2 separate regions of the Homo sapiens genome follow, and region 1 is linked to region 2. A link means that fine-mapping ties the variant in region 2 to the expression of a gene that starts in the linked region. Tissue or cell type: whole blood. Region 2 holds a variant in brackets; the other region holds the start of a gene. All regions are shown on one strand. Distances are between the middles of the regions. Region 1 holds the start of MYO5A (myosin VA). Region 2 overlaps MYO5A (myosin VA).

Region 1 (4,386 bases), 110 kb after region 2:
TGTCTTTATAATGACAAAGAGGTTAAAAAAAATTTTTTTTCAACACACGGTCTTGCTGTTTTGCCCAGGATGGAGTGCAGTGGCACAGTCATGGCTCACTGCAGCCTCAACCTCCCAGGCTCAAGCAATCTTCCTGCCTCAGCTGATCATCCTGCCTCAGCTCTCGAGTAGCTGGGACCGCAGGCGTGACTAACTCGCCCAGCTAATTTTTATTTATTTATTTATTTATTTTTTGAGACAGAGTTTCGCTCTTGTTGCCCAGGCTCGCGATCTTGGTTCACTGCAACCTCCGCCTTCCAGGTTCAAGTGATTCTCCTGCCTCAGCCTCCTGAGTAGCTGGGATTACAGGCATGCGCCACCACGCCCAGCTAATTTTCTATTTTTAGTAGAGACGGGGTTTTGCCATGTTGGTCAAGATGGTCTCGAACTCCTGACCTCAGGTGATTCACCCACCTCGGCAACGTGTTGGGATTACAGGCGTGAGCTACCGTGCCCAGCCTAACTTTTTAATTTTTTTGTAGAGACCAGGTCTCATTATGTTCCTCAGGCTGTTAAAAGGTAAATTTTAAAATAGATTGTGATAAAGCTGTGACAGAAGCCCAAAACTTTACCATTTACAAATCACAACATCTTTTCAATTTTTTCTCCCAAATTATCCTGGGGGAAAAAAGCATTCGAAATCCAACAACAATTTATTATCCACTCAGTCTCTAGTTAAGCAGCCTACTATTAGGTGACTCAAAGATGACTGCTCACCATATAGAACGGAGGGTGTCCAATCTTTTGGCTTCCCTGGGCCACACTGGAAGAAGAATTTTCTTTGGCCACACATAAAATACACTAATGATAAATGATGAGCTAAAAAAAAAATTGCAAAAAAAACACAACAACCCATGTTTTAAGAAAGTTTATGAATTTGTGTTGGGGCACATTCAAAGCCGTCCTGGGCCCACATGCGGCCCATGGGCTGCGGGTTGGACAAACTTGATGTAGAAGTGGAGGGGATGGGCTACACAAAGTAACCAAGGAATGTTTACAGACTGATTATCTCTTCATGTGAAAATGATTTTGATATTTCTTAATATCGACCTCATAAGTTCCTTATGAGGATTATGAGTTCATATTTTTAAAACGCTTAAAACAGTACCTGGCACATAGCAAGCACCATATTAAGTGTTTAAGTTACTTTTAATCAGTTTCCAATTGCATTCGTTCATATGTTAGAGATCTACAATGCCTAAAGAAATTACCAGGTTGAGAGAGAAGTTCCAACTGTACAGTCGTTAAATCTAAAACTAGAAAGAAAGAGGTCTCAGACAATGTTTCATGCAAGCTCATTTCATGGTTGAAGAAATTAATCATATATCTCATATTTGCAGAGAAATTCATAGGTTACAAAAAGCTTTCACAACGATTATTAAGTTTGATTCTCACAACAGCTTGTAAGGGATGCAAGGCAAGTATAATTAACTGCATTTACTCATTAGGAAATCGAACCAGAGATGTTAAGTGACTTGTCCAAGGTCACAGTTAGTAAGTCCCGGCTTGAATCCAGGTCTCTTGATGCCCAGTCTTCTTTCCTCTACAAAACACACTGCAACTTGGGCCCTGGACTTCAGTGACATTTGGAAACAATGATTCCAGTGATTACAGGACCCTAAATGAAAGTTCTGTTGCAAAAGCTAATGTGAAAAGGCAACTCTATTAACTGCATGTAGAAGTAATCAATATCTGGCAAAATATCTACCTACACATGAGTGTACAGTATAAAATGCCATGATTACATATATTCACAAAGGTCATCACAAATCTGCGCAGCACTCAAGTGACAGTTCTCCATAATATGTCATTCAGAGATCGCCAGACCCTGAGTATATTGATGTCAGTCTAAGAAAAGACTGCCACTTCCCTTAAACCAAACCCAGAAGGGAAAGGCTTGCCCCAGAGGATGGTAAAGACATGGAGCCTAACAAGGCTCTGCGGGATTACACGCAGGTTGCAAACTCCCAGCGATAAATGAGTACCGACCCTCCCAGCCGGTGAATCAGCTCGCGTTCATCCGGCAGCATCTTTCCCCGGGGCTCGCCACCCCCAGCGCAGCTAAACTGGGGAGCTAAAGGTGATACGGCCACCGTTTGCAGGATTCAAAATAACCTCACAGAAAGGCTAGCTGGCGGTAGAAGCGGCACTGCATACCAACACAAGACGTTATTTTAAGCGCGTGTCCCCACGAGAGAACCCATCCGATCTACTGGAGCAAGCATCTCCCACCCGCCGGGAATTTTCCAAAGCCAAGCAGGAGGGGAGGCACGCCCGCCCTGCTAAATCCACATGGGCCCCCTTTCCACTCCGAAGCCCGCTCTGCCCCCAGCTCGAGCAGCGCGGCAGGGGCCTGGGAGACCCCCGAGGCGGGCCACCTTCCGCCGCCTTCACCATCTCGCCCGAAAGAGGAAGGTGCCGCAGCGGGCGACCGGCTGGTAGGGCCGAGGGTTCTGAGGCGCTGAAGGGGATGGCGCTGGTGGGGCTCGCCTGGGCCCGGCGCTCCCGCCCCCTCCCCAGCCTGACAGCTGGCGGCGAGGGCCGCACAGCCCCAGTCCTCGACGCCGGCCGCGGGGTGCCTTACCTTTGTGTAGAGCTCCGACGCAGCCATGGCGGGCCCCGCGCGCCTACGCCCCCCGCCTGTGCGGAGGCCGCACCTCGCCTGGGCGGCCGCCCGAGCGGACTAGGAAGCGCCCGCAGCCGCCGGCAGGGAGCAGGGCAGGGCAGGGCCGGGCGGGGAGGGCCGCGCGGGGCGGGGCGGGGCGGGGCGCCTCAGGCGCTGGCCGCCCGCAGGGGCCTCGCCATCACTCCCGGGCTCGCCGCGAGCAGCCGCGAGCGCTCCACCTGCCCGGGGTCCTAGGGGTCGCCGCCGCCGCCGCAGCCACTTCGGCGGCCCGCGATGCTGCCTCCGCTGCCGCCGCCGCCACCGCCGCCGCCCTGTGCATTATGGGAGCGGGAGGAGGCTGCGCTCCAGCGCTGCCACCGCGGCTGCTCTGGGCTCTCTCGGGCTCACGCTGCCTCCCATCGGCTACGAGCACAGAGCATCATCATCATCAGCCTGCCAGCCGGCCCCGCCGCCGCCTCGCGCCCTGCCGAGGCCCGGAAACCCGCCCGGGACGTGAGCCCCGAGGGCGCGGCACACCCCGGGCGCCCCCACCCCGAAGCGAGCCCGGGGCCCTCTGCTGCGGAGCCTAGCTCCCGCGGTAGCGCAGCCATGGCACGGGCTGTTACTGTGTCCGAATAAACGATGGGAGCCTCCAGGCTGCTCCTCCCGTCCTTCCAAGCATTCCTAGGGAGAGGATTTAGGGGAAGCCCTCTTGAAAGACTGTAGAATAACCCAGGACTGTAGAAGAGCCTTGTCAGCAGCAGTGACCCGGGAGATGGGCAATGCAGGACCGGGAATTTCAGGTTAAGGTTGATCACCAAGGTCATTCCGAGCACCTCGATGTCTGCAGCAAAGTCGTCTCCCGATACCAGAGGGCAAGGGCCGCTTCTAAGCTACAGAAACTTAAGTGACTTTGAAACGAGATAGCCCGGGGACAGCCCAGGTGCCTCTTTCCTAGACCTGTGCGTTTGCGGAGATGCAACTACCCTTCTGTCCCAGCCTTCTTCCCGTCCTGTTCGCTGCTGGTGATTGTCGGCTCCATGGTGGCACCTGAAGTTTATCCGGTTGCCACCTGAAAATGACGGAGTACTTACATGGAAAATCTGTATTACAGTTTAACTCAACATCAAAAGGGCAAAGCCGCCCTCACTCTCCTCACGGTGATCCTTGAACATCCAGCACAAGAATGTGGTCTTTCTACTCCCAACCCTGCGCTGTCTTCATCCTCTATCTTCTCCCCACCCTCATTGTCGTTTCTGGTTGAATAATCTTCATTCTTTATTGTTGTCGTTGTTGTTGTTGCTGTTTTTGTTTGTTTAATCCCTGCCTCTTTGTAGTGCCCTCATCTCTCGTTTCTTTGAACTACAACTGGTCCCCAGTGCCTGTCATGGTAATCTGGTAGACCATTTCTATCACGAACAACTCTCATGGCTGAGGCCCCCGGTTGTGTGTGTTGTGTGCGTGTGTATTTGGAGAAAGACCATTCACTGAAAGGAACGGGGCCAGTCCTTACTCCGTGGAACTCAGACCTCTCCTCTTCGCCCACAATCCCCTCAGAAATGCTAGAGGGAATGTCTACTGAGTCGAAAGTCCTACAGATTTGTCTCTGTTCCTTCCCATTGCAAAACCAAATCGCTTTCATGTTTCTGGGACCCACTCTTTCTTCACCCAGACATAAAAAGAGAAAACGTGTGCAGTGACGACCAGCGGAACGGAAGGAGCACTGGACTGAGATTTAGGAG
Region 2 (4,396 bases):
CAAAAAGCTTATAAAGATCATAGTTTAAGTTTGTAGTTCAAATCTGGAAAAAAATTAAAACTTTAGCTATATTAAAATTTAAGCCAACTGAGGTCGGACTAAGTACAGAAAATGAAATATGGGCAAAGGAATAAGGAAACTCATTCATACTTGAGCATAACAAATCTTATGTTTTAGAAGGAGCATAAATAAGAACTCAGGACTTGGGGGAAATGAGTAACTTGTACTTCTGGTACAAGGAAAGGAACAATAGACATGAGTCAGTTAATGAGGAGAAGGAAACTTAATTGCTGCCTGGTATTTAGGGGCAACAATTTTGCTGGTAGGTCAAAAATTCAGGATTATAGACTAAAACAGATTCCGCTATAGCTGGGCTTTACTAAAAATGTCTACCTTACCAAGTTTTTACTTTCCCTAGATTTTTTATAAACATGTAGAAAAGCATTTTCTTAATTTTAGTGGCTGGAGACCCCAGGCTTTCTGAGACATGCTGTATCAATCAATTTTTTGAGCATGTTTCTTATCAAGAGAATATAGGAAGAAAGCCGAAGACTCGCTGTCTTACCTCCATGATGGGGTTGGAGGCCAAGACCTTTTCCTCCACATTGGCCTCACTGGCAGAACCACTCACAGTTGCAAAGTATCGCATGGCATACTTAGCTGAGACTGTTTTTCCTGCCCCAGACTCTCCACTTACGATGATGGACTGATTTCGTTCATCTCTGTAAAATAAAAATTTTTTAAAAAGTAACTGCCATTGCTGCCTATAGCAGGATTGATAAGGGAAACTATGGTCTCTATGGAAGTAGGGGGCTAATTAATGGATTTTTTGGTCGATACTGGTGCTTATAACACCAAGGTCTCAGGTTCAATCCCTATACTGGCCACCAGAAATGTTGCAGGATATATATATATTTTTTTTAAGGAATCAGAGAGACCGATGGGGTTGAGGAGGATATTTATTATTTAGGTGCACCAGCCCAGTCAGATTAACATCCAAAGGACCAAGCCCTGAACAAAGCGTTAAGTTACCTTTTAAACATTTCATGGGGTGTGGGGGAGATCTGTGCAGGGGGAAGCATATTACAGAAGTAAGAAACAAAGACAGTTATTCAATTAATTGAGACATGCATTACATCATTTCTTTTCAAGAAAAAACATGTTTTATGACTTGGGTTTATCTGTCTAGTGACTTTGCAGCTGCACAGCTAGAGAAACAGGGTCTTCACAATGCCTGGGAAAGGAGGAGAGATAAGGCTCACTAGCCAAAGAAAAACAGGCAGTTAATTTTTAAAGGACTCCAGCTCTTTCTCTTTCTCAGGGGGAAATGGATTTTCTTACATACAACTGAGTTTCTGCTTACACATTCTTTAATTTCTTTTAATTCCTGTTCCACTGCCCACTTGGCAATGTGATTAACATTATTTCTTCTGTGTTCTTCGTGATAAGGCACAGTGAGTTTTTGCTGGTTCATACATGCAACAGTGTGGAAAGGAACATAAGAATGATATTTCCTAAAAATAATATCTACTTATAAATTAAAAAATAACACAGAGGAAGAAGATATCAAGCATTAAATTAGAGAGCATCACAACTAAGGATGAATCTGCAATAGAGGGCCTCTGAATTCTTATGTGTACAAATCTCAAACATATTATTTTATTCCTAAAGAATTACTTCAATATCTTACAGTACTGTTGTCAACCACTTCAGGAGATACTCTTTGAAGCCACAGCAAAGAAATTTAAATTTACAAAGAAATTTAATTTGTTTAAAGTTACAAAACCATTTAAAATATTTTAAATTACCAGCTAACAATCCTCAAAATGGCATCTCCCACAAACTCTAGCTCCTATTAAAGTATCCTCATCACTAGAGAAGAAATAGTCCATTTGCTGGCTTGGCTTCATTCAACTAAAAGTTAAATAAGTCATGATCTGTATCCTCATGTGGTTGACGGATGTTGTGGTTTGAATGTTCTCTCCAAAATTCATGTTGAAATTTAATTGCCAACATGATGATATTGGGAGGTGGGGCCTTTAAGAGCTGATTAGGTCATGAGGCCCCT[C/G]CCCTCAGGAATGGATTAATGGCATGAATGCAGGAGTGAGCTAGTCATCACGGGAGTGGGCTCCTGATAAAAGGATGAGTTTAAGCTGATTTCCTCTCTGCCTCACATGCTCATGTGCCCTCCTACTACTGAATGACCTTTGCCAGATGCCAGCGCTGTGCTCTTGGACTTTTCAGCCTCCAGAACAGTGAGTCAAATAAACTTCTGCTCTTTATAAATCACCCAGTCTGTGGTATTCTGTTATAGCAGCAGAAACTGGACTAAGACAGTCATCTAATAGGAAAGACAGGCCAATAATTCAAGACTGTAATACATGTGATGGGGCCGTAAGAGGAAGAAGAGGTTATCAGGGAAGATTCCCTAGAGATGACAGCTGAACAAGGTCTACAAAAATGAGTAAGAGAAAGCAAGCAAGGACTACAGAAGTCAGGAAGGGTACATTCCAGGCAAAAGGGATAGCATAAATGAAGGCTCAGAATCAGAAGTTTGGAAAGAGCAGATAACTCAGCTTAGCTGGAAAATGGAGTAATGACAGATTTATGATTTCTGGTTTGGCCAGTCCTTTCAAGGGCCTCCACAATAATCCTAAATAGGCTGGGTACTGGGTGCTTTGGAGTGGAGGTGAGCTCTTCTGACCTGTTTCCAGAAGGTCTAATGTGAACTAAAAGCCCTCTTAAAAATACTGCTTCATTCGTTCATTTAACAAACACATAATAAGCAGCTACAATGTGCTAATCACTTTATGGAAATAAAAGACTCTAGGGTCATAGTCAATTGAGAGAGACTAGAAAGGACACAATTAAAATGCAGTTGGAAGTAACTGCTATAAAAAAGGTCTATCTAAGATACTATGAAAGTAGAAAGGAAGGGTATGGAACCAGTAGGAGATGTGAGGAGGAGATGTCAGGAAAGCCTTTCCAGAGAAGGTAATACCAGAATTGAGAGGGTAATACCAGAATTGACTCATATATATGATCATTAGGAGAAAACCAGGTTCTGTGAGAATAAGGAAATGGAGTTAAATTATGTAGAAGCACTCGAAACCCCAGGAAACAATTATTCAAGGATGAGCAAGAGAGAGATAGAGAAAGAGAGAAAGAGAGAGAGACAGAGAGAGAGAGAGCCGGGGTGGGGGAGGGTGTCTGTTAGCCTTTATTTTCCTCTTATGGTCATCAGTGACCTTATATCTATTTGGTCTGTCGGGTCTTTCCTTATAGTTTTCATTTTGTATGAAATGTATTATTTTATAGATTTTCCTTTCGAATTTTACCCTTTAAAATATGTAATCTCTCTAGTTTATCATGGTCATACCAAACACTATTCATATCTTCCAAGATCATCAACTTGTCCTCTGTAAACTTAATAAACATACTTTCAATTACATCTACGTCATCAACAAGGAAATTAAGCAATGCTTGCCTCAAACCTGAGTAATGTATAACACGATTTAATATCCCCATCTATGTTGATGTTAACTCTCTGATAACCACCCATTGAGTGTTGTCATGTACCTTGATGAAGTGTACATGCACCTGCACCTAGGTCTAACTTTTTAGCTTATAAACAAACATGGCCATGTGAAACAAAATCTAGAGCTTTACTTTTTTGCAGGCAACCAATCTAATTGTTTCTCCCTTTATCCGATCCCTTGTTAAAAAGAGAAAATATTAAGTTAGTGTAATAAAATGCTTTCTTTCAAAACTGTGTTTTTACCGTGGTGTCTTAAAGATGTGGCTTCACTGAGACTTTAATCTCTCTCTTGTTAGAGAGATGCTAAGTTTTTCTACATCATCACTCATCAAAATCAAGCTGCTCTGCTCTCTGTGTCTCTCTGATTCCTACTTTTAATTAGTCTCAATAAGAAAATGCTTAAACCCTAAAGTTAATACTAGACAATGAGTTTACAATTATAATATTAATTTTATTTTTGAAGCATAAATATTTACTATAAAAATGGTTGCTGGCACTGTTGAACGCTTTAGAGAGGCAGACAGACTTCTCAGGAAATGAAAACAAGTGTTTCCTAGAGATACTTGCTGAGGTCACTCAGTTCCTGGTGAGAAGCCTGTCACATGGCTATCAGATCCTCTCAAATCAACCTGAGTTTTCTGTTCCATCAGTACAGAGCCTATGCATTATATAAAGATGCTAGAGCAGAAATAGCCAACTATATTTGTTTATAACTTTTACATACTCTAGTTCTCTAATATATACTGTATTTTATTCCTGCTGCAACCTTCTGGGGTAGATAATATTCAGTAAGTCCCAAACTAGCAGTTTAATGTTATGGTTTGAATGTGTTCCTCAAAGTTCATATGTTGCAAACTG

The links. PIP is the estimated chance that this variant, and not a neighbour inherited with it, causes the effect.
Region 1: it holds the start of MYO5A, and the variant in region 2 is the best candidate, but not a certain one, in a credible set for the expression of MYO5A in whole blood (INTERVAL, PIP 0.63).

Annotation. Positions count from the first base shown.
Region 1 is chr15:52,526,157-52,530,542 of GRCh38, forward strand. MYO5A (myosin VA) reads right to left here and starts at 2,724. Exons shown (of 42, transcript NM_001382347.1): 1 at 2,624-2,724. The coding sequence starts at 2,650. RefSeq lists a silencer at 2,374-3,253.
Region 2 is chr15:52,415,580-52,419,975 of GRCh38, forward strand. It overlaps MYO5A (myosin VA), which reads right to left. Exons shown (of 42, transcript NM_001382347.1): 5 at 566-722. Among named protein-coding and RNA genes, the nearest start is that of MYO5A, 110 kb to the right of the region's middle. The variant C/G (reference allele first, on the strand shown) is at 2,069.